Linked DNA regions of Homo sapiens: region 2 is linked to region 1. The links come from fine-mapping of genetic effects on plasma protein levels. Region 1 holds a variant in brackets. A gene starts in the other region. All regions are shown on their reverse strands.

Evidence for each region. A credible set is the group of variants that fine-mapping cannot tell apart. PIP is the posterior inclusion probability: the model's chance that the variant is causal. Protein levels are from antibody-based Olink assays in UK Biobank. Linkage for the fine-mapping came from a reference panel and not from the study's own genotypes, which makes the PIPs less certain.
Region 2: it holds the start of WASL, and the variant in region 1 is the best candidate, but not a certain one, in a credible set for the plasma level of the WASL protein (UK Biobank, PIP 0.69).

The regions. Positions count from the first base shown.
Region 1 is chr2:203,872,496-203,888,607 of GRCh38, reverse strand. It overlaps CTLA4 (cytotoxic T-lymphocyte associated protein 4), which reads right to left. Exons shown (of 4, transcript NM_005214.5): 4 at 14,643-15,900. The coding sequence ends at 15,796. Among named protein-coding and RNA genes, the nearest start is that of CTLA4, 13 kb to the right of the region's middle. The variant C/T (reference allele first, on the strand shown) is at 14,412.
Region 2 is chr7:123,740,424-123,756,535 of GRCh38, reverse strand. WASL (WASP like actin nucleation promoting factor) reads left to right here and starts at 7,533. Exons shown (of 11, transcript NM_003941.4): 1 at 7,533-7,918. The coding sequence starts at 7,802. WASL-DT (WASL divergent transcript) reads right to left here and starts at 7,341. Exons shown (of 1, transcript NR_170281.1): 1 at 5,555-7,341. RefSeq lists silencers at 7,251-7,570, 8,031-8,120 and enhancers at 7,149-7,803, 8,563-8,612.

The sequences.
Region 1 (16,112 bases):
TCTCCCCTTGCTTATTCCTTTCAACATTCCTCACTTTACTAGCCTGTCTTGGTTCTTCTCTTACTTATCACAACATCTCATGCCTTTGCTTTTTCTCTGTGCTTCCCAGTCCCAAACCTGCCATTACTTGATGGCTATGTGGAGGTAGATGATCAGATTCTGTGCAAGCTTCTTCAGGGGAAGATGTTACTAAGAATATGGTTGTGCAACATGTTATTATTAAAGCATATTGAAGTGCTTGCTCTGTTGGCACTTTGCTACATACTGTAGGAGATACAGCAGAACATAAGGCAGAGACTTGACCTCAGGGAGTTTATAATTATTAATAATCGTCTCTAATGTACAAGCAGCCCCCACTCCACCATGTTCTAAGAAAATAGTTAGGAAATCCCAGGCAAGGAGAATAATGTTATGTGTACTGTGGTGGTAAGAAGTGGATGATAATGAAATTTTCAATTTTCTCAACCCCAGTCCAGCAAAAGCATTAAGTACCTCCAATAATAAGTGGGTCTTTGCATAAGAAAAGCCATGAAATCATATGACAGGATCATCAAATACATGTATATACACAAATCAGTTAGTGACTATTCCCTAAATCATGAATCTAAGTCCTTCTGCAAATTTGTGATAAATGGACCACATTCAGGCTATGTGTCCTTTTAAACAACTTACATCTGTTTCTTATAATTCATTAAGTGGCAAAATGCCATTCTACCCTTTCTATGCACCTATTGTTTAACTTGGCTCTGTTTTCAGCAGTCTGAATAGTGTTCTTTCAGCTGGACAATGTGTTTATTCATGTAGCTGTAGCTATTCTGCTACTAGGAGTGTGTGTTTGAAACAGACATAATGTCTGGAAGGAAAGAAAACACCCAAAAGAAAAAAACTAAACACATATCATTTTTTTCTCAATGATCTTTGCCACCTACACATATATTAAACACATCATACTCTTCAAAACATCTTTATAGAAGAAGACATCTATAGAGATTTTATAGAAGAAGACTTCAAAGAGAAGACTATCTCAAGGTTGAATGTAAGTGGATGAGCTTCAACTCTACATTGCTCAAACACTGATAGGCCTCCATGAGATGCCTCTTCCCTTATGGAAGACAGAGAAATGCCTCTGTCCATCTTACAACGCTAAAAATGGCTAAATAAACCCTGCCACTTAAATGGAGCTTCTTGGTTATAATTTTTAGTACAGCATCTGATTTAAGGCATCATTTTGTAGTGCGGATAGCCTGTGATTTTGAATGGCAGCATAGAATGCAATTGAGAAGAATCTTTTGTAAAATATTTCAACAGGGATGAAGAGAAGGGTCCTTGGGCCTACCTGATAAGGGTTCAACATGGGAAAACTGAATGGCCGCTCTTGGGAAAGGGGACTCTTTGAGTCCCAACAAGCTCTAGTGTTGAATGTTTTCATACTAATAACATGAGCGTGTTTTTTAAAGAGTATTGTGGTGACCAGATTTGCCAAGGAGATAGGAAATCTGAGTAATGAGTGAAGCTGCCTGTCAATCATAAGGTAATTTGATAGGTGAAACAGAAACAGGTCTCTTGAGAAATGGTTGGCCACAGGGTGCGACACCTCATGAAATTTCTTGCTGGTGAAACTCTCTTCCTTTGCTGAGAAGGTCTCATTTGCTGAGCTTTCACAGATGTAGAAATATGGACTCAGCAGGTTGCAAAGCCAATTGACAGTTTCAATCGTGTCACTTACAAGAAGAATTTGATAACCAATTCAGAAATGAATTGTGCTCCTTTCCTCTCTTGATTAGCATACCTCACCAAACTCATTCTGACTGTTCCAAGTGTGCCATCTCAAGTCTTACTTGTTGTGGAGCTTATATATTGAGTTCTTTCCAGAGAGCAAAGCTCTGCGGTTTGTGTGGAGTGGGGAAGGAAGGGCATCTATTACAAAATCAAATGACTTGCCTTTCATTCAGCAATAAAAATTAACATTCTAGCAAGAAAGACCTAGGAACACAGGCTGTGTTGAATAATTTTACTTGCTCATTTCAAAACTTACAGGTCAATAATTCTATTAACATTTATGTTCCTTACTAAATATATCACAGAGATACTATCACAATAAAATGAAGCTGAAAATAGATTGAGTGAGTAAGAACACCCTAATACAACTCTATTTCTTAACAAAGTTAATTAACATCCCTAAGCCTTGACCCTCTTATCTATAAATCCTGATCAGCCTGGCACTACATAGTTCTAGGACAGTTATGATGGCCAAAGAAACTACCATTTCCTTTGACTACTACATTTCAGCACTACACATGAACATGCTTTTAAAACAGAAATGTGTTCCTCAAATGGAGGATAGTGAGAAAATTCAAACCCAGGGGATTAAATAACTTGCATGAAACTGGCAATTAATTGGTGATGGGGCTGGGACACAGAGCTAGCCATTTTTATTTGCTAGCCAGATATCTTTCTTCTCCAGACCTTGTTACTTTTACAATTTCTTCTTGTGAAACCAACATAGCCACTTTAAAAGGCATGCCTTAGAAATAAGCGCTATACTCAGGCCTTTATTACCTACAAGCAATTGAAAGAGTTTAACATCAAAAAATGGAACAGCTATTCAAATGGCCATCTTCTAACTAATCAGGTACTCTTTCCACTAGAGATATTCAATGAAAACCTGTTCTATGCCAGTCATTCCTCAGTGTCTAAGCCATCACAGTGGAAAAAATGGGCAAACTGAAAAGAAAATATTTTCAAGAACCCTCAATACTGCCAGTGACAAACCCATTAACAATATACAAATTACTGATCATTGTAATTTATGTCCACGATTACATGTATGATTAACTAAAATGCAACTTGCTCAACATAGTTCATTTCCAAGACACAGGGACTTGAGATGTTCCCTCATATGAATGAGGACTGCTTAATTCTGTTTTCAGGCTCTTAACGAAAGGAGAGAGGAGGAAGGAAAGAAGAAATTGACCTTTCTAAAGGCCATTTTCCAATTCCAATCTAACTTTAGGTTTCTTTTTTCTTAAATTCACGCCTTCTAAGTTACTGAGCTGAATCAAATCGCAGCATCCAGGCCTGGTGTGCACAGTGACAAGCGTTTCCAGGGGATTGCCTTGTACTTCCCACAGATCACACCTTGCTTAGTATACCCAGATGTACCCCCTCCAAGCAACATCACACACTGCTTACTCATGCCTGGGTCTTTTGCTGATGCACTTGCACACAGTCAGGCGTTTATTACCTGGTATTTCTGTAATTTGCTTTTCTTCACAAAGCCCACTTCTCTACACTTGTTCTTGATTGGAATTCACCTTGTTCGTAACTGAAAACCTCTGCAGTTTATCATAAAGTCACTCTAAATTCTAATGATAGCCCAGTAGCCTCTCAGACCTAGAAAAAACCTTGGAGACAGTGATTCTGACCAACCCCCTTCTGCTCTAGAGGAGGAAATGGAGACCCAGAGGCATAAAAGGACATTTCCAGGAATATGTAATGTCTTGGTTAAGATTTCGGCACAAAATGGAATTCGTCTCAGATAATTTGACTGATGAAATATGAATTTAAAAAACTGCTTATAGAGGAGTGGACAGGATTAAGGCAAAACAGTGGATGCTGAGACCCCCCTCCACCCCCACCCCAGCAACCTGCACCAGCAGAAACTCCTACTTCTACAAGGTCTAAGACGAAACGGGAAAACAACCACCAAAGCCCAGTGAGGGCAGGAAGATAGGAGGGGCCGCCGGACCACTCAAGATGTAATCAAGAAAGGACACAACTACAGCCCTGGATGCTGTGTCAAAGCAGAGATGAATGGAAGAAATATCCCAACCACTCTTCTGCCCACTCTCTCATCTCCTGCTGTGTCTTCTGGGGGTGGATTTCCACAGGGCAGGGCTGGCAGGGGATGTGGCCCATTTAGGTCAGCTCCCCCAGGCATAGAACTGAGCAGGGATAGAGAATCAATTTAGAGGAGCAAAGGGAGAACAACCAACAGATATAGTGAATTCAACCACCTAGCCTCCATTTTCACCAGGATCCATCTCATTACAAAGGCTCTTATTTGCCTAACAAATATTTACTGACGGGAAAATAAAGAAAAGGTAAAAGAAATGCAGGCAAGTAGGAAAAACGTAGAACAACCCTATGCCAAGCACTGAACCAAATACTATGAGGGGTCAAAAAGAAATAATAAAAATATACTATAGTAATATACTTACCACATATATCAATATTATATAGTATTTACCCTGTGTCAGGCCCATTCTAAGCACTTCATATATAGTAACTCATTTAACCTGCAACCTCATTTTACAGATGAGGAAACTGAGGCATAGTGCATTGAGAAGGTTAGGCCCTAATCCTTTTGCTGAAAGGCCATGCTTTCACCACTACTCTACACTGCCTCTCTAAAGTAAAAAAGTCCCTTGGGGAATTCATTAGATATTTAGGGAGATAGTACCATTAATGCACAAAAACTTAATTGTCAGAGTTAAACAATCACAATTTGCATCATTACAAGACAGCATGCGAATGAGTCCGGAGTGGGGAGTTCAGCTTGGGCTGGAGCAATCCGGGAAGAGACAAAGGTGATTATTAAACAGCGCCTAATCCAGAAACAGCACCAGGCAATGGCAGACCTGCTGGGGCAGAGCCAAGAGCAGAACCCAGGACTCCTAGTTCTCCAGGGAAGGATTACTAGTTCCCTTGCCCTTGACAATTGTCTTTGCAGGGCTTCACAGAAGTGTTCTCAGGGACAGAGTTCCAATTCACAGATCTGGTACCTCATCCAACAGGATCCCAGAGGGTCACCTCGCCCAGCCTCCTTCCCTCAGCCCAGGAAATATTATACGCTCTTTTGTCAAATGAAGCAACTCTTCTGCTCTCATTTTCTAGATTCTGCGGGAAGGCCAGTGACCAGTAATTTTTAAATAACTAAACATAAGTTGGGCATGGTGGCTCACATCCGTAATCCCAGCACTTTGGGAGGCTGAGGCAGGCAGATCACTTGAGGTCAGTGATCAGTTTGAGAGCAACCTTGCCAACATGCTGAAAACCCATCTCTACCAAAAATACAAAAATTATCCTGGCGTACAAAAATTATCCTGGTGTGGTGGCACACTCCTCTAATCCCAGCTACTTGGGAGGCTGAGGCAAGAGCATCACTTGAACCCGGGAAGTGGAGGTTGCACTCCAGCCTGGGCGACAGAGCAAGACTTTGTCTCAAAAACAAACAGACAAACAAACAAACAAAAACATAGACTTGTAAATCTATGCACAGGAAAACATTCAAACAGCAGAATATAAGCAAAGTAAGACTAACCTTGTATGCTAAACATTTGTCCTTATTACAATCACTCTTGAATATAATTTAGACTCTGAGACAGATGCTTACATTTACTTTCTTAACTATCTCCCTCTTAGAAATGTGCAGTATTTAATAAAAATATTAATGGAGGTCTTTTTGTTTAAGGACCAAAGTAATTGTCTTCACATGTGTATGCATTTTGACACTGAAAGGAATAGAGATCGCATTTGGTTTTATGATGTTGCTATGTGGTTTTCAATTAGGTTTCTGTTACGTTCTACAAACACAAAAACCAGCCCGTATCTAATTTAATACCTATAAATTTCCACAGATGGCCGCGGAATACTGTAGGCCAGTGGATAAAGATTTTGCCACATGTTTTCCAATTAGTAACTTAAAATTCTGTTTCTACCACATTCTTTTTTATTAAAAATTTCCATTCACTATTTTTTTTTCCAGAGAGCGTGATTATAAAATAATTCTCTCAGTTTCACTAGACAAAAAAGACATCTGATTTGAAACAGTTTGTAGGTTAGGCAGCCAAGTTAGACAGAAATAGTTCAGCTGCAACTGAATAAAGCCAATAGTGTTAGGATGGTTGTCAAAAGTCAGATTCATCAAGACCAGTTTGATCCCAGTGTATATAATGCACCACAGAAGATGGAATTTTTTTATTTTTCTGAGACAGGGTCTCACTCTGTCACCCAGACTGGAGTGCAGTAGCACAGTCATGGCTCACTGCAGCCCCAACCTCCTGGGCTCAAGAGATCCTCCCACCTCAGCCTCCCGAGTTGCTGGCGCATGCCCCCACACCTAGCTAATTTTTGTATTTTTCATGGAGACAGGGTTTCGCCGTGTTGCCCAGGTTGGTCTTAATGTCCTGAGCTCAAGCAGTCTTCCTGCCTTGGTCTCCCAAATTGCTGGGATTACAGGCATAAGCCACTGCATGCAGCCTAGAAGATGGAAATTTCTGAGGGTATAGCAGGAGAACTTTACTTCTAGAGCAGCCACGAAATTCCTTCTACGTCTGTCTATGCTCAAAAATGCAGCTTTGTTCTCCTGCCACCTGAGCTCATGCCAATGTGCTGAAGGGTACAACATTGAGTGCAAGATTTAAGGAAAAGAGCACAGAGTTTGAAATTAGACTGACTTGAATTCAAATCCATTTCTACCACTTACTACGATGAGATCTGGGGCAAATTATTTGACAAAAATAGAAATAATATCTTCCTCTTTAAAGGTTTGGGTAGACAAATATGGTAAGCACTCTCTCATTGCCCACCGTGAGCTCAATCTCGAGAAGCGACAAGGTCATAAACAAAGGTTGATACCGCAGAGTGATAAGAGCCAAATGATTAAAGGACCAAATGAAGTGAGAGTAACCATGTATGAGGGTTTAGGAAGGCTTTACAGAAGAGGGGACATGTGAGCTGGGTCTTAGAAAAGGCAGGAAGTAGCTTAAAATCTCTAGATTCTCAATGACATCTTGAGTGCCAACTGTGATGATGATCCATGGTTCCCTAGAGAACTGCATTGAAAAGAATTTTTAGGACACAACCGGGATCAGTGACCCAGCCTATGGCAATATCTCTAGGCAACGTCTCTGTATTAGTCAGGGTTCTCTAGAGGGACAGAACGAATGGGATAGATAGATAGATAGATAGATAGATAGATAGATAGATAGATATAAAGGGGTGTTTATTAAGTATTAACCCGCATGATCAAAATGTCCCACAATAGGCCATCTACAGGCTGAGGAGCAAAGAGAGCCAGCCTGAGTTCCAAAACTGAAGAACTTCAAGTCCGATGTAGGAGGACAGGGAGCAGCCAGCACGGGAAAAAGATGTAGGCTGGGAGGCTAGGCCAGTCTCTCTTTTCACATTTTTCTGCCATGCTGGCAGCTGATTAGATTGTGCCTACCCAGATTAAGGGTGGGTCTGCCTTTCCCAGTACACTGACTCAAATGTTAATCTCCTTTGGCAACACCCTCACAGACACGCCCAGGATCAACACTTTGTATCCTTCAATCCAATCAAGTTGACACTCAGTATTAACCATCTCAGTCTCCAAGAGGTAGTCCTCCCCAGTTTATGGGGTTTAACTAGTTGTTGGCCTCAGTTTACTGGCCCAGCATTCCAATTCTCCATGATACCCTGCCTAGCCTCCCCATAAGTGTGGGATCCTATTCTCTGTACTTCCAAATGTTGGCAGGTATCCTAATGTGAACTGATTGACCCACCAGAAGGTCAACGTCTATCTGGCTTTGGGCATTTCCTGCCACATCCTTTCCTGCTGTGGCACCCTCCTGCTAAGGTAGATCTCTGTGCACAGTGACGCCTGCCTGAATGGAGCCTGAACCCGTAACAAGTCTCAGAGGCAGGCCGTAGGAGGAGCTAGGCCAGCAGGAGCTAGTCATTCAAGCAGGTCTACTTCCCCAGGCCCCTGCCCAACTAGGTCCTCTGATGCCTTCCTTTACCCACCAGCTGCTGTTAGTGAGGATCCAACAGGCCTGCCTCTGGCCAGTCTGCAGTACGACAGGGTCCAATGCCCTCTCTCTGACTCTGAATCCAAGCCTAAAACAGGAAGAAAAATAATACCAACCCCCTCTTTCGTCATGTGCTTCTGTGGAACACCAGCGCTGAGTGCTCCAGGAAGCCCACAAAGAAAATCTAATCTATTTTTCATGTGACAGCCCTTCACACCTTACACACAACTTTCATGCCATCCTTGAATCATGTCTTCTCAGGCACAAATTACAAACACTATCAACACTCGAATTGGCACAAGTGCAGTCCATGCTACGCAGCTCCGCCTAGGCCTAAAGCACTCAGGGGTTCCTTTGTGATGTTTCCTGACACCACCCCTCCATAATCAGCTTTCACCCCTGCTTGGTGCCCACACACACACCACACACACACCACACACACACCTGCCTCCACCCCCAGCGATTCAGAGTGGAATCATTACTTTTAACTTCCATTCCCAGCAGGGAAAGTCTTTTTTTGCTTTGACCCCAGATATTCCTACACTTCAACTTCTGGTAGAAATTACTTATGCATAGCTACCTCCATCACAATCTCGGCTGACCAGCTCCCTGCTTCTGCCTAGAGCCTCTCTCAATCTTCTATGTGGCCTGTGGCATTGGACCCAGCTCTATAACTTTTTTCACCGTATACCAGTTCACTTAATTTGCCATTTGGGGGCATCTTCAGGCCCTGGAGTCTGCTTTTGCCCTCTATTTTTTTTCCTCAAAGGGAGTCATTGCCTTTTCCCAGCATCCCTCAGCCTGAACTCAGAGACCCTCCCTCCTCTTCACCCCCGACGCCCCACCCTCAGCTTCTGCTCCAGGCTGGTTATTACCCTTTTAGAAACTAGCCCCATTCCAAAGTTCACAAATATGAATGCAAGGTAGCTCCCACTGACTTCCATTGTTCATTATGTCCTGTATCTCTAGCCTGTTTCAAATGGAGAATCACCCTCTTCGCAAGGAGCGTGCTGCAGGTGTCATGAAGATCAGAGCTTCTCACTGGCTGTGTTAATGATTTCCATTTTCCCCCATCTCTGAGCCAAGCATCAGTGTGAGAGAACCTATGATACCTTAGGGCCAGAAAGGCATGCAAGCCAGCAATATTGCAGCGCTGACTTCAGCGCCAGTAAATGGGAAAGCAGCTAGTTACTGCTAAAACTGTGGATTGGAGCCAGTGGTCCATCTTTGAATGTCTTCAACTTCCTGTTTTCCTCTCTGGTTACAGGAGAGAGCTGCTGCTGGTGACAATCTCAAAATAAGCACCTTCAGAAAGCTTTTTAAAATATTTGTCCAAAAAAACATTGGCTGATATATCAACACCCATTTGTAACCCCTGTAATACATGCATTACTTCTCCAATACTTCAATCCCCATTCACCTTCCATTTTGCTCTTTTCCTTTTGCCAGTAACCCCCAGAAGTCAGATATGGTCATTCGAAAAGAACATGGTCTTTGGAATTAAACATGTGTCCTAATCCTGATTCTGCAACTTACTAGCTGTTTGGCTTTGGGCAAGTAATTAAACCTTTCGGAACTTAATTTCCTCGTTTATAAAATGGAGATGATGGCAGAACCTCTTCCACAGAGTTACTGTGGGAATTGCTTTAGCTAATGTACATCCATTTGTGCAGTATTTGAGGCTTCATAAGTTGGTTTCCTTTCCCTCTTCATTCAGGACAAGGAATTCATGAACTATATCTTAGTGAATCAGCTTCCTCAATAGGAAAGGAATACAAGGCTAGTCTTCATTTACAAATCCATATTTCCTGTCCTTAACATACTGCTATGGTTTACCATAATGCCAGGGGCAAAAAGGTGCTCACAGGAGAGTAGAGACTATGTTTGAGTTGCACGCTAACTACAAAGAAGGAGACAGAGTCTCACTCTGTTGCCCAGGTGGGAGTGCAGTGGCATGATCTTGGCTCACTGCAACCTCTGCCTCCCAGGTTCAAGCAATTCTCCTGCCTCAGCCACCCGAGTAGCGGGGATTACAGGAGCCCACCACCACACCCAGGTAATTTTTTTTTTTTTTTTTTTTTTTTTTTTTAGTAGAGACAGGGTTTCACCATGTTGGCCAGGCTGGTCTCGAACTCCTGACCTCAAGAGGTCCGCCCGCCTGGGCCTCCCAAAGTGCTGGGATTACAGGCATGAGCCACCGCACCTGGCCAGAAAAACTCATTTTCAGCAAGGTGAAGAGAAAAGCTACCAGTGGGATGCATGCTGCACGGCTAACATGACAAGGTGGAAGCAGGAAGAAAATGACAAGCAGGAAGAAAAAGGTGATGATGTCCTTCAGGAAAGTGCTGCTCATGAGAAGTCATCTGTGTTATCTTCTAAAATTTGCGATCATCCCCTGAAATATATTTCTTACAATTCCTCTCAGAGGAAGCTGCTTCTTTTTGTCCAAATAGATAGTATTACTTTGTGTGATTAATACCATGTTTCTGAAACACTGTTAGTTGCTATAGTAACTTGACTGTGTGTGATTAAAAGAGCATGTATCATCTCAATGGGTTGTTCCACGACTTCCAGTGGCAATAGGAGCTTTCTCAGTGTACTGCCGGCTTTGCTGACAGACTGTTTATTGGCAGCGTTTTGCTTTGTGTTGTCCGCCTGCAGCATTTTTCTGTAGGATTGCTAAGAACAGGCTGGGTCACCTGAGATGCTTCTCCTAAGTCCTCTGGAAGGGTACAGGAGAAAGAGAAAAGATGAAGCCAACATTGGAGCAGCAACAGTGGTGATAATCACACCGAGATGTAACAGGAGTACTTGGGATGGAGATGGATGGAAAAGTGGGTTTTCTGTGGGTGGCCTGGAGTGGTAGCAGGGACGTCCTAGAAGCAGCCTGGAAAGGACAGCCCCTGGTCAGAAAGGTGCACAGTGCCACCCTCTGCAGAGCCCTGATGTGAAAACCTGGAGATCTGACTTCTTAGCCTAGTTCAAGTCCTGCCTCGCCATAGGACCTTGGACAAGGTCCCTAAAGTCTCCGAGCCTTATGTTCTTCTAAAATCTGAGGATCATTTCCAATATCCTTTGCTAATCATCTATGATGGTAGAATCCTGAGTTAGATCAGAGCTTATGAACTATGGCCTAAAGGCTCTCTGAAGAATTAAAATCCCCAGGCCCTGCCTCAGACCTTATAAGTGAGAAGTTCTGGTTCAGAGGAACTTCAATCTGCACTTTTTCCAAATGCTTCAGATGATTATTGTACGAAATAAATGCAAGAACATAGAGTGTGCCCATGAAAGCAGATTTCCAAGAAGGGTCTGAATGTCAAGTTCCTTGCAATATGCAGCAGGATGGGTTAACTTCCTCTAAGAAAATTGCTTAGAAGAGAAATAGCTACCTCTTCTGCAGGTCTCATTAGCTTCCAGTGACATAGCATCAATCCCACATGTGCCTGGAAGTGAGAACAGGAGATTGTGTTACAGTTGGAACAGTGGTCACAGTCTCAAGTTGTTCTTGCTCAGAAACTTCTGAAGAGGGGTCTCTAGTACACTTTTCTTTTCTTTTTCTTTTTCTTTTTTTTTTTTCTGAGATGGAGCCTTGCCCTGTCACCCAGGCTGGAGTACAGTGGCGTGATCTTGCTCACTGCAACCTCTGCCTCCCGGTTCAAGCGATTCTCCTGCCTCAGCCTCCCGAATAGCTGGGACTACAGGCACCTGCCACCATACCCGGCTAATTTTCATATTTTTAGTAGACACAGGGTTTCACCATGTTGGCCAGGCTGGTCTCAAACTCCTGACCTCAAGTGATTTGTCCACCTCAGCTCTTAAAGTGCTGGGATTACAGGTGTGAGCCACTGCACCCAGCCTCTAGTACACTTTTTATTCACACTGCATTAGAAGCATAAGCTTTCCTGCTGATAGCGTTGTCAGATAAAATACAGGGCATCCTGTTTTCTTGTTTTTGTGGCGTTTTTTGGTTGAATCTGGCAAACTTACCATGAGCCCCTATCCCAGCATGTAGCCAAGGAAACATAAAAGAGGAAAGAATAAATTTTCCTCCCTTTTTACCAATAGGGTGTGTCATGTTTCTGGACTGAACAGAAAAAATTGACCTGAGATGAGAAAAAATATATATATATGAAATAAAACAAGGTTTCTAAGGAGCCTGAGTCATGGCTCTAACCAGGTGCAAACAACAAGTAAGGCAATGGGAATAACTTTCCGGAGAAAGCCATGTTCTCCTTTGCTTTGAGAACTCCCAAAAGAATAACTAAATTTATAAAGTCTTGAACTTCTCAACTGGCTTTGCTCCAGTTAACAACACAGTGACATCAATGTTTCACGAGCTCAGTCCCAACTAAGTTGAATGAACTATTAACTGTGGATACGGAAGAAGGCTCAGACTGGGTATAAAAATATAGTCAATTTTAGCAACAACCAACAATTCAAAAGAGAAAAAGAATAAAAATAAGAATTCAACAAAGAAAGAAAAAGATTGGAAGTAAGACTGGATTAAGATCAAAGTAGAATGAGTGGGACAGAGTAGGCAGCTGGAACTCACAGTCCAGAGTCTTTAAGGTTTAAGCCAAAAGATGAGTAGACCTGCACAAAGTTCTGATGATCAAATGGGAAAGAGATTAAGCTGGGACTGCCTAAGAAAACACAGATGGGTTCTGTATGGAAAACGGTCCTGGATGTCCTAGTTCCCCAACTCCTCAATTCATTTATTGGAGCATCTACTGTGTGCCTAAAGTTGTGATTATCCCTGTCTTGGAGAAGTTCCTGATCTAACTAGGTAGAAAAGACATGCATGCTTGAAATTATTAGAGGTGAAACCAAGTATAGCTATGAAACAAAAGAGGAGAAATCCACGAGCTTAAAGTGTCAGCAAATCTGACGGTGGAGGCAAAATTTGGGATTAGTCTTGATGGGTGTGACAATGAAGGATTATAATATTTGGAGGTGAGAAATGAAGAAATGGGAAGTAGCAGGAATGCGAGTACCATGCTGAAGAAGAGACATGAGCAGAGGCGTGTGCTAGGAGCCATGTTGGAGGAGGAACTGACTCTGGAGCCCCTGGCCACTCTATCCGGCTCCCTTGTCATCCACAGTCTTGCCTGTGACAAGTGGTTCCAAGGAGGAGGGTTGCAACGCCCAGGCTCCCCCTGCATGGTAGGCCAAGCCCCTTTTGGGTTCATGGATTATTTGGGCTTGGAGCTGCCCCAGGACCCTGATCCCAGAAATGGAGATGATGATGAAGGTTGGAATCCCATGTGACAGTTGGTCCTCTGATTTGGGGGCAGTTCACCTCTCTGAGTACTACAGACATAGAATCTTCTCTCATAAATGACATGGGAATTAGAAGAGGCTTTCATTTGGTGCCCAGATGCACTCCCTTACCCTCATATTTGCTTTCTCCCCTTTCAGCGGAACCCCGGGTCATAGTCTTTCTTGTACAATTCTTCTGCCATAGGGGAAGCTTTTTTGAGCTAAAGGGTATTTTATTTTTATAAGATTGAGACTGAATGAAGAGGGCAAGTCTTATCTCAGTGAACAACAAATGGTAGAATTTTAGGCAATAGCAGAGGAAATATTAAGCTTATATAAAGTAGTCCATTATCTAAGGGTGTCTGAAAGGTACCTGGAGGGCATCACTTGTGTAAGGCACTCTCTGTCACTCAGATCTGCCCATCAACTATGAAAAAGAGTAATCTCTCTAAAGATGTTTAGAGGAGTGGAAATGATATACTATCCACTGAGGCTCCTGATTGGTGTTTTTCTTCATGGCTACCATCCAAAGGCCTAGAGAGCAAGAAGCACAGTCTTCCACAGAAAAGGAGCTCATTCTAGGTAATAATCATTACCTTACTTTGAAAGACCTATTCGTTTTTTTTTAACAACCCCTTTTGAAATGCTTACTATGTGCTGTCTTGTGTGTTTGTTAGCACTTGCTGGGGCAAGAAAGAGAGAAAGAGAGCAAGAGCAAGCAAGAGAATGAGCAAGGGGGAGAGACAGAGGAAGAGACACAGACAGAGTTGCCTAAGCAGTGATTCTCAAAACTTGATGGGTATAAGAAGCACTGGGAAGATTTTTGGAAATACAAACTCCTGGCCCCACCACTCAAAGATTCTGATTCAACGCATCTGGGAATAAGTGTGAATTGGTGTTTTTAGTAAGTGACCCAGTGGATTCAGTTACAGGTGGTCCCTGACCACACTGAGAATCACTGCAAAAGACAATAACAGGATGTGGAGGTCAAAAATAGGAAACCTTAAGTGGAAACCAAATGTGCTGAGACTATACATTGGTTAAGCAAGAATCACAGAGGGCTTAGTGTGCCAGGCCTAGGTGTGCCAGCTGATAGCAACATAGGACCACAGGTGTGTGTTTTCCCCACATTTGCAAAATAGTTCATTTGGAAGCCACAGGGAAAAGCTCTATATTTCAGGAAGGCAGATCAAAATGGCTGCAAGGGACGTGGTTGCCAACATTGGGGTTGCCATGACAACTGTAATGCCTGTGATAGTTGAGCTGAGAAAGCAGGCGGTAAGAAAGGGGAGGTGAAGAACCTGTGTTAAACAGCATGCCAATTGATTTATAAAGGACTGCTATGTCTGTGTTAACCCA[C/T]GTTATATCCCAAATAGTGGTGAAGAAATCAAAAGGAAAGAGGATGGATACCTTCCAAGAATGACTTGCAGGTAATGGCTGGTGCAAAGCTGACTCATGAAGCATTATTTGTCCTTTTGTGGTTTTTCAGTTTGTTTCCAGTATTTCTAATATTGGAGACTCCACCAGATACTGAATGAATCAATCAAAAATTTGAACACAATATTCAAATGCAAGGATGATAAAGACAACTCCGGAAAACGACCACCACAGATTTTTATTTAATTAAAAATATTATACATGTTGTTGCATTTTCATGGAAAATATTGAGTTAAAAACACAAGCAGTGTTAATTTTCAGAAACCTTCATGCACCCCATTCTGCCACCTGCTGCCTTCTTCTGTCCATGGCATTAACCACATGTTTGTAAGAATTGGGCCCATCGAACTGGAGCTTCCTAGAAGGTCATACCTGTGGGTCTCCTGGAGTAAGCCATTGTCTTCAAGACAGTGTTCTGTCAAGTCAACTCAGATACCACCAGCTGTGGCTTCCTTGCAAACCATTGAAAGGAACTGGTGTAAAAGCCCCAAAGCACATGTCAACACCAACTCAGCACAATTCCACGCAATCAAGCACTGCTATGACCTCATCCAGTTTCCAAGCTAGTTAGCAAATGACCTTGTGTTCTACCTGGTGTATTAGTGTCCTGAGCTCCTCCACAAAACTTCCCTGGGACCCAAGGTGGAAAGACACTGCCATATAGTGTTTATATTCAAACCATTAACAAATACACAAAAACATACGTGGCTCTATGCACAATACTATCAAATTAAAATATATATATATATATATATATATATATATATATATATATATATATATATATATATGTATATATGCAATACAACCTTTAGCATCACTGGCTAAAACATAGCCATGTGAGTATTTTTGAAGCCTTGATGTAATCATACATTTGTTTAAGAAATAAAAGGCATAAAATTTAACTTGAAAAGATCATTTCGGCTATAAACGTCTCATACGTAAATATAAGGTGTGTACAATATAGTCTTCTCCCTCGCTCCCTGCCTTTTCCTTCTTTGGGCTGTGCCATTCCCTAACTTAATTCCTTGACCCACATCATAATGCTGCATCCCCATATTAATCCCAAGTGATGCTTTCACTGAAAGTGGAGCTGATGTGACAGAAACATCCCAGCTCTGTCTTTCTACTCCTTTGCTTTAAATTGTAGTACACGTAATTTGGGTTCCGCATCCAACTTTATATTAAAGAGAGATGAATTCCCCCCAAATGCACAAACAAATAAAAATAGCTGGATAGCAAAAAAGTTAGAATTGCCTCAGCTCTTGGAAATTGAAATATGGACTCTCTTCTTCATAATGGTTTCTCAATTGATGGGAATAAAATAAGGCTGAAATTGCTTTTCACATTCTGGCTCTGTTGGGGGCATTTTCACATAGACCCCTGTTGTAAGAGGGCTTCTTTTCTTTAGCTGTCAAACACAAAAAGAAACAGTAATTACTACTGAGGAATACGGAAGCCACTTCTAACCATAATAGAACTCAACACATATTGGGTCCCTAGCTGGTTAAAAATGAATGTTCACAGCATACAGAATTATAAACCTCAGGAGATTTTCTTGATTCAGCTATTAAAATTTATTTTAGATAAATAACTGTGATTTTGATGTTAAATGGCAATCAT
Region 2 (16,112 bases), not on the chromosome of region 1:
CAAAATACATGGGATTGATTATATAATTTTGAGCTGAGAAGGACCTTAGCAATCATTAAGTCATTCCTTTCATTTTACAAATGAGTAAAGAGAAGCATGATGAAGTTGAGTGATTTTAGTAAGATTTCATGGCTAGTTACTATCGGAACTCAGATCAGAAAAGCTATAGCTAATAAATACCTGCTTGCCCTTACAGCTATTTTGCCAGGTGTGAACAATGAAGACATTCCACCTACAGACTCTATCCTATCTAGGTCTTAAACTGACAAGAATAAATCCCAGTGGTTCATTACAAGTTCCGTCCCCTCAAAAGAATATGATTCAAACATAGTTTGTGTAATGCCATAAGCCTTATATGCTTGGGAAAGGGTGGAAGGTGGCTGGTGGGGGTGGTAAATTTCATCCCCTGGAGGTCGTCTTGAAGGTCTACTTATTGGAATCACCAGGAGGGCTTCTTAAAACATAGACTGATGAGTCCTATCCCCAGAGTTTCAGGTTCAGTGGGTCAAGAGTGGGGCCTGAGAATGTGCATTTCTAACATGTGATGCTAATGCTGCTATGAGAACTGCTGGCCAGTCTCCCCCAGTCCATTGGGATGCCAGCCTATTTTTTGTCCTGGTTATTTTCACTTTAGTTTCCAACGCTCCTGGATACTAAGCTTGCTTCCATATGCTTCCAGAGTTGCTTTCTAAGACCAAGTGAAGCCTTGACTTAGTGTTTTTGCAATCACTTCATGCTAAAAACTATTATTCCCCCAAATCCCTAAAATATGACACACATTTCTTTTCTCAGACTAGGCCCCTGGACACCTGAGCTCACTCAGGAGGAAAAAAAAAAAATCACTTTATCCTCTGGACTTGAATTAGGTTGCTGGGTCATCTCAAGTGGAGGTCATTCCTTTCTATTGCTGTTGTCACAAGCCCTGCTCCTGCTACCATTAGGTTGTGTGCAGTTTCTTATGTATTGTGTTTTCTCTCCAGGTGCTCTCAGAATACCACATGCTTAGTACTGTGTGGAAGAGTTTGGGCAAGACTGTGGTTTCTCTTTATTTGATCTCAGATCCTGTGTAACTATCTTTGTACCTGATAAAAATTCATATGTTTTTATTTGAATCAAAGGTGGTCATTTGATCTACAAATATACGTTGAATAATGTATAGGTTCAATGTTAAGACTAAAAAGATACAAAGATGAATAAGACATGATACCAGCTCTTAGAGAGCTTTGAGGCTAATGTAGGAGACAAACATTTAAAAAGTAATTACAATTTACAAATGAAAAGCCTGCATATCACTGACTTTGACAATTTATTATATCAAAATGACTTACTTCAATTTGCTTTAATGAATCAGCTAAATAGCTATTTATAGATAAATGATATCAACGTGTATGAACATATAGTACTAACCCATTCAACCATTACCAACTTTCTAAGGACAAGTAACCTAGTTAATGTGGGGGAAAAACACAGTTCTTATTAAAGACTTTGTATGGAGGCAAAAATAAATAAAGACTATTTACTTCCTAGATACAGAGTTTTACAATTTTATTATGTATGTAATATGCATGTAATTCAGTACACAAAAATGCTATCATCTTGATAAAATTGGAAAGCATTAATATTTCATATTATTGCTTTTTCTTAACAAAGACCCTCTCCCCAGTCATCAAACATCCTGAAGTTCCAACTGTCCCCAGTTGAATTCACTAGCTGCTGAGTACCTTTTGAATACTTTTTCTGTGTTCATGGAATTTCTGACCTTATGAATCCGCAGACCCTTAACAACGAGCCTGAAATCTCCAGCTCTTTTGCAGCTAGGGTACAGGTATGTGACCTTTCCCTCATCAGACACACCCATGGGCAACTGTGATTTGAAAACACATAAAGTGAAGAAGCATGTGGCAAAGGGCAGCAAGGATGGCAGCAGAAACACCCTGCTTTTAGAATCTCAGAAGAGATTCTAGTTTCCAATTCCCAATGTTAGCAGTAAATCTATAGTATCTCTGCCCAGAGATGACCACACTGAAGGGCTCACTGGAGTAGTTCCACAGTGAAACTTGGGTGTGCTTTCTAATTGTATAGAATGAGTCAGAAAATCTGACATTTGACCAACAGGCATTCCAGAAAGCGAAAAGAGAAAAAAGGGGAAGAAAAATATGAAAATAACAAAAGAAAAATTTCCAGCACTAAAAGACATGAGTTTTTGGATAAAAAGGGCCTTTGGAATACCCAGTACAATAAATGTAAAAGTATTCCACTATGGTACATCATCAACTTTCAGAATTCCATAAACAAACAGAATTCTGAAAACTTTTAGAGGTCATAAAGACTTATATACAAAAGATCAGAATCAGAATAACTTCAGATTTCAACAGCAATGTTGAAAGTTCGAAATCAATAAAATAACACCTTCAAATACTGAAGAAAACTGGTATTCAACCTGAAATTTTCTACCCTGTTAAACTAATCAACCAAGAGTGAGATTAGAATAAAACTATCAGCTATGCAAGGTCTCAAAATTTTACTATCTATGCACTTTTTCTTAGGAAGCCACTAAAGGATATACACTATCAAAACAAGGGAGTACATCAAGATGGATGACATAGGTTCCAAGAAACAGAGGGTCTAATACAGAAAGATAAAGGGAAATCCCAGGATAGTAACTCAATAAAATTCCAGACAATAGCCATGTAGCAACAGTACAGATTAATATGGGATGATGGATGGCTTTGGGAGACAGGTCTTTGATTAAAATTAGTGAGTCTAATAGATTCCTGATACACTTGATTATGTGGAAAATAATATGAGGAAGGACTTTATAGTTCTTAATATAGAAGAAATAAAAGAAATAAAATTTAAGCAAATTATTGAGGGGGGTAAAATCCAACAAAGTTAAAGTGGTCCAAGAATGTAACTTCTGTTTTATGCTGTTTTAAGTTTTGTACTACTATTTGATTTTTTAAATTATGTGCATTTATCATTTGTATAAAAATAAAAATTGATTTTAAAAATGTTACATGGTAGCAGAGACCATATCCTTGACCCCAATAATTTCAATGTGGTAATGGGGACATGTGGCATCTTCAAATTTTCCCAAGTATCCAGCCTGCCTACTCATTTATAATGTAGATTGACCTTGAGAACATTACAATAAAGAAATCAATGTTGTTCTCTCTCATTTGGAATAATAATAAGCCATTGAATATTCATTAAAGTTAAAGAGCAGCCAGAAAACCATAAGCAGCATCCTGGGAACTATAACATACTTAGCTCTTCAAATCATTTCTTGATTACAGGTAAGTACTAGGTATTTGGAGACTAGGACATATAATGGTAGTAACTATCACTGGTAATTTTGTAGCATGAATAAGTGTTCAATTTTCCACTAACTTCAATAAGAAATCAGAATGATTTGTAAATAAACTATTTATTCCTAAAAAAGAAAGCCCCAAAGAGGTTTGTAGTTAAAATGAATTTAAAAAGGAGAGGCAGAAAAAAAATGGTGTGCTAGCTTACTTTTCAGAATTTAGTTGATGAAAAAGAAAACAATTAACATTTAACTTGGGATAACATGTACTAGAATAAATTCTTGTAAGCATTGCCATATGCAACATTTACATAAAAATGTGCAGATATTTTACAAGACGAACATTTTAGACACATGACATTTCTGGAGGTTGCATGGGAGAAGTAGCACTCATTGCCCCTGCACTTTTTCTGCAAATCCAGATTTGCAGTATTCAGATTTGCTGTTGTTCTGTCTCTATAAAATCAGTTCTGCCATAGCCAAGCAGCAATTATGGCTACAATGGCTGCTGAATGCCGTGTGCTTTCAGCCACCTTTATATTCCCCCACAGTAAAGGGTGTCACTACATTTTAAATTATTAACATTAGCAAGGGGAATAGGGTGTTTCAGAGGACTTTTAACAGTACATAAACAATGACATTTGTAAAGAAGAAAAATATATAACAAAGAACCGTAACAAGAGAAGCTTGCAAAGTACCCATAAGGATAACAGCAGGAATGTATCTGAAAATATGCTCTCATTTCCATAATAAGCTACCCTAATGTTTTCTGTTAAAATGAGGGCTTTACCTTAAAAGATCATACCAAAGAAAGAAGAAAATGAAGTACTAGAATAGATGCTAGTTGAGGTAAGGAGAGTCAAATGGAAGAAATTAAATGTAAGAATTGCCTTTTTTTTGTTATATTCATATACACCGTAATAAAGCTTTTTTTCACAGCCCTCTCCCACTACTCTTTCCTGTCTTCAAAATAGGTTGGTGGTCTACAAGCTCTGAAAGCTGGTATTTCTAGCATATGCATTTTATATGTATATTAAGATAAAACCCCTAGTCTTCTTAACAGCGCTTACAAACTTCAAGATACTCTGTTGAAGGGAAACAGAATGCTTATGTCCTGGATAAAATCCAATCTCTCAAACTGGGTAAAAAAATTTGAGATAAGGAAATAACTTGCCAAAGAAAACAGAGAGAAAAGATGTCTTGTGTTCTGCCAAACAGAGGATATGCTATCAAGAATGAAAGAAAGGACTTGCTAAAACTTTTGAAACAAAAACAGCCAGTACTGCTTGGTCTCAGGATGAGTATGGAAAAATAGAATCCTTTATGTATGGTAAGGAGGGAATCCCCAAATATTGCTTGTTCACAGGCTTAAATGAGTAAGGAAGTCATATTTCCAGTGAAATGTTCATGCTTACATTTTCCACATCAAGAGTTGGAAAAAGCCCAGAGAAAAACAAAAATAACAATGGAGGGTAGAAGACAAGAACTTAAATTGCAATTTTGTGGACAAAGGACTATACTAAAAATTTGGAGAAAAATTAAAGAAAGGTTGGACCTGAGGAAAAAAGTCTACTGTGGTCATCATTTTCCATCTCCAAGTCTAAAGAAAACAGAAAAAGGGCAAATAGTAAAAAGAAAATTGCATTTAGATAAGTCATAAAATTTCCTGAAAGAAAAGAAAATCAAAACAATAGATAGTCTAGGCTAGTAAGAGGTTGTGAAATGATTGGAACTCAATAATTCTCAGAATGAGATAAATTCTTGAACGCAGCTACTGTCCATTCACCTATCATCTCATGGCCTTTTTTTTTTTTTTCACAGCCCTCTCCCACTACTCTTTCCTGTCTTCAAAATAGTTTGGTGGTCTACAAGTTCTAAAAGCTGGTATTTCTAACATAAAATTTGCTAATCTTTCAGTTTTTATTAAATTAGAAGCTAATAGGATTCTATCTCTGGATTTACAGTTTTAAAAAGTTTTATTTTGGCATACTGGGATATATGTAGCCTATTTGATATAATATATGGCCTAATCAGAAATTCTGCTATCAAGTTCTTCACTATATTTTTGAAAAAATATGTACAATTGTATATTTGAAGGACAGTTTTTGAAGAGTCAGAATTAGAACAAAGGTAAGAATACATATATTAAGTCTTGATCCCTTAGCTCAGGGAAAGCAGAAAAGACCATAGGCAAGGACTGTCAATGGCCGACAACTAATACTTGAGTAACCACTATGTATCAGGTACTTTACATGTGATACCTTTTTTTAATGTCTTATAATTTTAGTTTAAAAAAATTTTAATACACAATAACTGTACATATTTATGGGGGTACATAGTGATGTTGCAATACATATAACATATAGTGATTAGGGTAATTAGCATATCTATCATCTCAAAAACTTATGTCTTTGTTTTGGGAACATGCAATATCCTTCTTCTAGCTATTTGAAACTATACAATATTGTTAACTATAGTCATCCTACAGTGCTACAGAACACTAGAACTTATACCTCCTATCTAGTTGTAATTGTGTATTTTACAACTTTGAAGTAGGTGTAATTATCCCTATTTAGACTATACCTGTATGAAACAGAAATTATTTTCATTTTACAGATGAGGAAACAGACGCAGAGAAGTAATTTGTCCAAAGTCCATAGGGTTGTAAGACTCATAACAAGAACTACAACTTGGGCCTATCTGAATCTTATACTTCTGGTACTATACTTGTTCACAGGTTTGAAAAGAGCTTTAATTTCTATTATTTCTCAAGAATTTGTAATGCTTTCTCTTGTCACTGTGCTTTCAACTTAGAGGAGTTGCAGTTTTGATAAAAGACAAACTGATTTAGCTTCTAGGTTTGTTAAATATGTAATTCAGAGGCAACTCCAGGCTTATATTTCTACGACTGCTTTCTAAATCTAATTATTTTATAAATAGTCCTGTTGCTTTAATTCACTTTTTACCCTAACATAATTAATCAAGTTTAACTTTGAAATCTCCATATTTTATGTGAGAACTCCCAAGGCTATCCACTTTTATTTTCCTTTGTAAATTTATTGTTGCTCAGCCTATTTCATTAATGGCAGCTTTAATTATAATATTTTATTATATTTTCAAAGTGCATGATAATGGTTTACCAGTCTGGTTAGTACATCAGAGATTTCTATTGGGAGCTATCAGAGATGTTAACATCCAACAATTTTACCAAAGTGTAATTGTTATAGACGTCTTAACATGAATTTACGCAACAAAAATATGTTTAATGTGGAGAACAGTGAGATGCATATTTGATAATTCACTGCAGTCTGCATCATCATCTCTATATTCCAAAATTTCGTCTTAAGCCGTTTAGTATTTAACTTACAGAAGAAAGGGGGTTATCTTAGATAACTTTTAATATCCTAAGGTATTTTCCAATTCACGATACAGGGAGAAAAGAAATGTGTCCAGGCCCTTAGAAGAAAATACTTTGAATTTAAATGTGACACATACATTAAACCCGCGTGACACGCCAGGCAGGCGGTGGAAGTCAAGTGCATTTGTTTTTGTTTCATCCACCAGGGCGATCTCTTTCACAATTCTGGGAGAGGCCTGTTTGTTCCTCCACTCCCACAGCTGAAGTTTGGGACAAAGTTTGAGAAAATCCCAGGCACCTGCGGCTCCTATCGAAGCCGGCGAGGAGCACAGGGTAGAGCGTCTCTTCCCAGTTTTCAGTCTTCAGATCGCAGGCCTCTCGGACCCGCAGAGCGAGCTTCACGCTGCAGCGCTTGAGAAATAAGAGCTATTCCAAGGAGGGGCCCTGGGTCCTCACTGACGCTTCGCAAAGGTGTACGTCCGCCCAGGGAAGGCCGGCGGCGCAGCGACGGCGAGGAGTCCCCATCCATCTTCTCTTCAAGCAGCAGTAGCTGGGTTCGGGTACCCAACCGACGAGCCGAGACGCCAGAGGCCAGAGTACGAAGTTGGAAGCCTGCGCCCCAAGCCAACCGGGATTCCACTTAGCTCCGCGCGGTCCGCGCCTCGGCCGGAAGGGGGCGTGGCTTCGGGCCCGCGCCGCGAGGCCCGCCGCCGAGTGGGGGGGTTTCTCCCGGGCCGCAGCCGCGCGTTTCCGGCGCGCTCCCCCGCGCCCTCCGTCCTGTGGTCTCGCCCGCCCCCGCTGCCATGTTGGATTGTGCGGCCGCCGCCGCCGCTGCGGGAGGGTTGGGGGAGGAGTTGGGAGTTTAGCGCAGTCGCCGGAGTGCGAGGACAACGACCATCCGGCCCTAGCCTGGCCGGGCGGGTGCCGGGAGCTTCCCTTTCTCAGCGCGGCGCGAAGGTGGCTCGCCGTCAGCGCCTGCTTCCCTCGACCTCGTCCTCCTCCCCGCTCCGGAGGAGCTGCGAGATGTGGCGCCTCTGACTCCACTTCTCCCCGCCCCTGTCACCGAGAGGGGGAACGAGCTCTCGCCCACTCGCCGGAGGAGACGGCCCTGGACTCCCAACCCCGCCGGCGAAACCATGAGCTCCGTCCAGCAGCAGCCGCCGCCGCCGCGGAGGGTCACCAACGTGGGGTCCCTGTTGCTCACCCCGCAGGAGAACGAGTCCCTCTTCACTTTCCTCGGCAAGAAATGTGTGGTCAGTGGACGAGACCCGCGTCGCCACCCGTGACATTACCTCACGGGCCCGGGCTTGGGGGCCGGGAAGTGGGAGTGGGGAAGGAGGCGGGAGCGGCGCGGGCCAGGCCTCCCGCCAGCCCCGGCCCCGGCCCCGGCCCCTCGTCGGCGCCCTCGCCCTGCTCCCAGGGTGCGGGCCGTGGCGGTCGGGCGCCGCCTTCCCGAGCTGCTGGAGAATAAGGGAGTGTCACCTCCGCAGGCCTGTCCTCCAGCCTGGCCGGGCCTCGGCCCGCGCCCTTGCTGCTGGTTAAAACTTTATTCTCAGGCCACAAGGGGATTTTCTTGCAAGAGCCGCTTGGTCCTAGAATCTGGGCCCTTGTTCTAGCTCTCGCTTCACCTCTTACTGCTTGATCTGGGGGTACGTTCCTTAACAATGCCAGGTTTGAGGAGTGGATAGGTCGGGGAAGGAAGGTGGTTTTTAATCTCCCATTAGGATTCCAGGAGGGAATGAAGTCGAGTGCAAGAGCCTGGGCTCTCTTCGGATTAGAGAGGGTGCAAGAAATGTTATTGCTCTTCGTTAAAGAGAAACAAGATTTATTTCTCTAGCAACCTTGCCTAGGCCTGGTTTCTACTCTCCTTCCCACTGATTTTTTTTTTCCCCCCATTGGTGGGAGGGGGTGCTGCTCTCCCCGCAGCCATGCGCAGGGAAACCTCAATCTCTGGTAGCTCTTGGCTTTTGGGGCCGAGAATGATTCTTAGTTTGGTGCTGTGCGGCCAATTCCAACCCCAGATGGCCGGTTGGGAGCGAGCAGTTCTGCTGTGGGAAGGGGAATGTGTGTTGTTGACGGAAGCATTCATTACATTGGCTGCTGGCAATTCTGGGGGTGGGGAGGTTCTGCTCTGTGGTGTAGGCCTTGTCGGGATCATACTGCGGTGACTGGGTTGAAGTGTGGTTTGTTGAAATACTGGCTGGATCCCTTTCTCTCCACTTTGCTAGCACCTGCAGAGTATGTGCCACTGGAACCCAGAAAACACGGAAATTTCAACAAAGCAATACCATTTTATAACTCCTTTAAGTAATATTAGGTATGCCAAACCAGATTTCACCTGCTTCTTTAAGAAGTTAGGATTAGACAATTTCTGGAAAGTTATTGGATTCATTGTTAACTTCATAGGAGTCCACCCTTTGTATCTTGTGCCATCCGGTTGGAGATTGAATCGTTCCATTCAATTTCAGATGTGTTTCATATTTCGGAATTTAGACCTTAGAGAACATTGAGTTTCCTGATTAGAAGGATGAAACAAGAGGAGTGGCTCAAAACGAGAATTTTGGGTAACAACTTTAAGCCCCTCCCCATTCACACACACTTTTTTCAACAAATGAGAAAACTGATCCAGTGAGCCCAAGTCATACAGCAATTTAATAATGTAACCAGAACTAGAAAACCAGGACTCCTCACACCTAGTCCTATCCCATTGTACTTTGCACTACATCATGTTGTTTTAGAAGGGTATTTTTTTTTCCTGTTACTGATTTATTTCTAAAAGTGGTGTTAAAGAAATAACCACTTTGCCTTTTTCACCAAAAACTAATTAAAATACAAGATTCTTAAAGCACCACTAATGTTTGCATATGCTCAGTTTAGGAAAATCTTCAGCACTTTGAATGTTAGTTACCTCCAATGAAAAAAATTCAGTTGCTGGTTTAGTAGATTAGCTATGTAACCTGTATCAAAAAGGAAGTAGTTGTGCTGTGTTCTACATACCAGACACATTAACTTTAGGCAGAAAGGACATTACATTTATACACAAGTATACTAATTGTTCTGTGCTTACCTGTAGTTTTACTGGTTTCGAAAAATGGCAGATGGGGAAAAATACTGTGATAGAGAAAAATGATGTTGCACATTGGTTAGTGTAAGTGGATTGCTGAATAGGCTCTCAGTATTCAGTGCTTAATTTCTTTATGCCATCTTTTATTAATCAACTGTACCTTTTGAATTTGTCATTTAAAAACCACACTTTCAGTTGTCTGCTTTTGTGGGATGAAGTCGTTGCAAATACTAATTTCAATATTTGAAGTCCCTAGTTAATAGAGAGTGAAGTAAGAGTGATATTTTAATTTTTGAAATAATCTTTTCCTCCCTTGGCTGATTATTCAGGTTGTTTTTGTCCTTTAAAACATTACTGAAATATATTGTCTCATAATAAATCCAGCAGTAAGATTTACAGGTCAGACCAAATGTGTTAGGCAGAAGTATACTCAGTACTCAGAGCTCTACCTAAGAATTCAAGAAATGAAACAGAAGCAGTTATAGTCGAAGCTCTGGAGGAGCTTCATTTCTTCTTTCATTCAACAAACATGTATTGAATAAATGTTGAGGTCAAAATCTGGAAGGGCTGATACTTGTCCTCAGGGAGCTTACTAGGTCTAAAAAGGGAAACGTGTAAACTGATAAGTCAGTGCTTCAGAGTGATGTGTAAGAGGCTGCTTTTCACAGTAGAAAATGCCTTGGCTTTGTAACAGCAAATGTGGGTTCAAACTGGGGGTCACTTTGGACAAGTTTCTTGAGCTTCCTATCCTAGATTTGGTTTTCTCATCTGTAAAACAAGGATACTATCTCATGGGGTAGTTGTGTGGATTAAGACTGTGTATAAATATATGGAAACTATTTTTATAAAGGTTTAGGGGATTAAAGGAGAGAATGGTGGGAGAGAGGATGATTAAAAGCTTTTTAAAATGGATAACTGATTATTTATATTTAAACAGGTACTCCCTAGGCTGATGAGAGGTATGAAACAGCTTGAAAAGTTAGGAGACCTACTAATAAGTTTGTTAGGTTTGTTAGGGAGCAAGGAGGGCTTCTGCTTGGGCTCTCAGATTTAGGTATGAATTGGAATCATTGTGGAGATTATGAGAAATGCATATGCCTAGGCCCAATTCCTAGATATTACTCAGAATCACTGGATCTGAGGTGAAGCTTGGACATGTCTATTTTTAGCAAGCTTGACAGAAAATTCTAAAGTATATCACAGTTTGAAAACCACTGCTAAAGTCCACGTTGTCTGATAGGATAATCCTTGAGCACATTGGAAATCTTAATAGATTTTTCTTCAATTTTTGGTCTATATTTTGCAAATTGAAGCTAAATTAAGTTAAACCAAATTCTTTTAGTACAGCATTTCTCTCACCGCTGAAGATACCAGTGTACATTTCACAACTAAGAAGGAGATACAGTTGGGGAAGTATTGCACTATTTAATGGGGACTCACAAGATCATATTTGACTTAGAAAATTTTCAGGGGAAAGGTGGAGGCAGTATAGAAGGTGGATTGAGGATTGTGAGGGAAAGACAAGGGAAATCAGATAGTTGATTTATAGTATTGCAGGTGAAATATGATGAGGGCCTGAATTAAGAGAGTACTTTGGGAATTCAAGAACAATTAAAGTCTCCAGCAGAAATTAGTCCCAGTTATATATAGAAGGTGAGGGAAGGGAGTTTCAATAAAGGCAGGCATTATAACCACCAGCAGAAAAAGTACACAGAAACATATTTTTATTCTCATTCGCTGCAAATATGCCTAAATGTTAATGAGACTCTGGATTGGTGATTGGCTTCATGGAGGAGGCAGATCATCAGTAAATCTTTTGTTTTACCACAGTTTCTAAAAATTCATTTTGTGGAAATTGAGATTTCATTGTAATACATAAATACATGATATGTACTTTTACATAAATAGTTCTGATGCCATTCATTAGCTGGTAGTATTATGAAGGGAGAATGAGAAGGTTATAAACAAGATTACTAGGTCTTATTTTGTAGTTAGATCTGTTGCCTTTCATGTAGTGTGATTCAGTTAATTTTATATAAAGAGTATGTGCAGTTTTGCTAAGTGAAGTTCAACATATATAGTCCTGAATAAGTGAGAAACTAAGGAATAGGAAAAAATAAAACATTAAACTACGTCTCTACAGCCATATCTGGTTTATATGGATTGGGGCTGATAATGTTATTGAGCATTATCTTTCCCTGCCATACTCACCTGGTTTGTTTTTTCAAGATTTAGTGATACTTAAGCCATTTTTATTAATCAACCTTAATCTTTATTTCCTTTAACTCCTCAGCACTTGTTTTAACTTGCTTATTTTCTTTAGTTTTTTGTTTCCTCACTATATATAATTCTTGGAGATAGACTTTATGCCTAGGTAGTCTTCTATAATTTTTGTAACTTCTGGCTCCCAGATCAGTGAATACTTATTGATTGATTGAATAATTATAATTACTCGTTTATTTTTTAGGAGCTCATTCTGCGTTTCTTATTGCTTGATTAGGTTGTTAAGCCCTTCAGTTTCTAATGCACATGGTATCTGGACTTTAGTCTTCATTTATTAAGCGACCGAAATGGTTTAGTTGTGCTGCTGAACTAATATAGGTGGTAACAGTTGTCTAACAGTAGTTTGTTTGTGTTCTAAATCAGACCTGTTGGGTAGGGATTCTTACATAGGCATACAGGGAAGGATATGCTTAGAGGGATCATTGTATTGATGATGGCCTGAGTAAGGCACTGTTGGTGGAAAGTTTAGACCGGGAATGTATTTCACCTTGAGTAGTAAGGAAAGATAAAAGTTAAAATTCACTGGATTTGGAATATACAAAGATGAGAAGATACCTTTGTCTAGTATAGAGGAAAAAGATGAGCACAAAAATGTATGTGACGCAGCGTAGCTGTAAGCACAAGAAGAGATTCAGAAAAGTCCAACAGGGTTGGGTTATGAATTTTACTTCTGGTTATTCTTAGCTCTATATATATAATACAGGGACATTTCTTAACTAGTCTCAGCCTTCATGTCTAGATTTGTAAAATGGGCTTAGTCAAGGATTTCAAAGAGTAATTCAATCATTATGGAAAATACTTAGAGTCCATGACACAAAGTATTCTGGGAGTTTGGAGGAGCATATGAAAGAAAGTTGTTATGAATACTATTCAGTGCTCAGTTTAGATTTCCTGTTACTGGCAGGGAGGATTTAGAGTAAAATTTTCAGCTCTATATTGTATTTGTTTTGACTTAGGTAAATTAACAATTTTAAAGTCAGTTAATTATAGGTGTGTAAATTAAAAGTTAAGGAGCAGCTTGAATGTATCTCTTTGGGGAGTGTCTGGGCAGCCTGAGCCTCCCTGGCTGCTAATTGAAGAGGAAGAAAGGGGTCCTGATGAAAAAGTTAGGAGTTCCTGAATTTTAGTCCATGCTCTGCTACCATACATTGTGAATATGAACAGGAATTTTTTTTTTTTTTTTTTTTGAGACAGAGTCTTGCTTTGTCGCCAAGGCGGGAGTGCAGTGGCACGATCTCGGCTCACTGCAACCTCGGCCTCCCAGGTTCAAGTTATTCTCCTCCCTCAGCCTCCCAAGTAGCTGGAACTACAGGCGTGTGCCACTACCCCTGGCTAATTTTTGTATTTTTAGTACAGACAGGGTTTCACCATGCTGGCCAGGCTGGTCTCGAACTCCTGACCTCAGGTGATCTGTCCGCTTCAACCTCCCAAAGTGCTGGGATTACAGGTGTGAGCCACTGTGCCTGGCCATTTCTCCCTTCCTGAACTTCACTTTTCTAATTTGAAAATGAAGGGTCAGACAAGATAACTCCACAGTCTTTCCAGCTTTAATGCTTAATCAGTTTAACTATTCTAGATTCCAGGGACTCTAGCAGGGAAAGAACAGGCCTAATGTTAACTCTAGCATATATGTGTTTTGCACAGCCGAGACTAATATAGCATATATCTAAGCAGAAGGTAGATAATCCTGAATTATTTCATTGAAAATTCCCATTTTTAATTCACCTTTTTCTAAGCATTGTAATTTAATAGGCATTTCACTTTTAAAACAGCAGAGTGAACAGAATAAAAAAGCATTAGTAGTAGAATTACCAACTCTTAGCTAACTTAGAATTATTATTTGTAATTATAATGTATTTTTGGGTTATTAGAAACTGCTTTTTTGGTTAAGATGGAATTATTTTTAAGAATTTCTCTTTTGTTAACCAATTCCATCTAGAATCCTAATTCTGGATGAAATTGTATTAGTGATATGATAGGTGTTACATGTTACTGCTTATTTTCCAATATTAAAAAAATCGGTTTTTAGTTTCAGTGGTAGACTTAATAGTTATAGTGAATTGACTTGGTTACTTTAGAGACTGATTCAAGATTGAGGTTACTGTGGGGATTCATTTGTGTGATTAAAATAATCTTGGTTTTCTTAAATTTTTTTGTAATGCACTGGACAACATGCTGAAATTATGGCTTATTATATTAGTGAATTTTGTATTCCTGAAACAGCATACCAAGAGACACTAGAACCTTTGACAGAACTTTTCTGAAACCCAAATGAATGCCAAAATTAGGCATGCTTTTAAGATGCAAAGGGCTGGGTTTTATCTTTTACTGTCTTTCTTGCTTATTCAACTTCTGTTCTTGCTGTGCTCTGGATATTAGAAAGCACAGCTCTTGAGGAAAAGATGTGACTGGGCCTTTTGAACAGTGTCTCTTTCACCAAGTTCTGCCAGTCACTCTTTGGCCATCTCTCTGTTGTGGACAGTTGTAGGGATTTTATTTAAAATATACTATTTTTTTAAAAAGTTATCTTTTAATGTAAAAATTGTATCTATGAGTAATATCAGATTATAAAGTCTGGAAATAAAGTCTTGATTAGAGAGCAGGTTTGATTAGGACATTCAGGATTCCTCATAACATATAGAATTGGAGCTACTTAAGCGTTGGCCAAAGTACAGAGGAGCCGGGTTCTATTTGTTTTGCTGCTGAGCAATTCCTACCATGTGTATCAGTATTCTAGTCTTCTATAGTAAGATTTTTAAAAAGTCTTTATAAAAACTGGTAAGAGCAAAACTTTCCTAAGGAAATGCATGCTTGTAGTAATCTCATGTATTTCACTTTTGTCCATATTCTATAGATTTTTTAAATAAATAATATTAATGGAAGTATAATGGTAGCCCATTCTAGTTTTGAGTAGAAAAACAGATTTTAAAAGAGCAGATAAGGGTTGAACTTTGTTATAATTTATTCTGTCTAGAAGTCATAGCTTTCCTAATAGAGTTCACTCTTACTCTAAAGGTTCTAGAAACAAAAGTTTATACATTCATAGTCACAGTAATAGGATATACATTGTTAACTATAAATATAATTCTTATAGGTCACCTAGCATCGTTGATGGATTCTTGGAAACTGTGACTTTAGGTGAAACAACACATAATGAAACCAGTTTTACCATAGGGTAATTGATATAAACAAGAGCTAAGTTTCTGTAGCATATATCACCAAACTTCTAAATAAAGACAAAAACACTTCTAATATTAATTAATGAAATAAATGTGAGCTGTAACACATTTAAGAAAGAGTAATAAAAACAAGATAATTATTTACCCAGTTACTTCACTTCAGTCTCAGGTGGCTGGAGCCTATCCTGGCAGCTCAGGGTACAAGGCAAGAACCAACCCTGGACAGGACATCATCCCATCGCAGGGTGCACTCATACCTACACCCACAACTCACTCGCACACTTGCTCATCCTGGGATAATGTAGACAGACCAGTGAACCTAACATGCACATTTTTGGGATGTGGGAGGAAATCCAAGTACCCAGAGAACCCAATAGACATGGGGAGTACCTGCAAACTCCACACAGACAGTGACCCCAGCTTGAAAATGATTTTCTTTTCTCATCAAAGTTAATAATGGGCTGGACGTGGTGGTTCACACCTTTAATCGCAGCGCTTTGGGAGGCTGAGGCAGGAAGATCACTTGAGGCCAGTAGTTTGCCACCAGCGTGGGCAACATAGACCTAATCTCTACAAGAAAAAGTAGCTGGTAGTGGTGGCCCATGTCTGTAGTCCCAGTTACTCCAGAGGCTGAGGCAGGAGGTTCACTTGAGCCCAGGAATTCAAGGATGCAGTAAGCCATGATGAGGGCATTGCACTCCAGCCTGGGCAACATAGGAAGACCTGGTCTCTTAAAAACAAAAAAAAAAGTTATGATGAAAGGACATTGAACAAAATGATGTTGAACAAAAGGATGTTATTTGAGGACCTGCTGTATTAAGTATTTAGTAATTAGGAGACATTTGGCATGCTTAACCATATTCATAAATATAGTGTAATACAAAATAAATCTTATTTATTGCATCTATGTTAGTAGTCTCA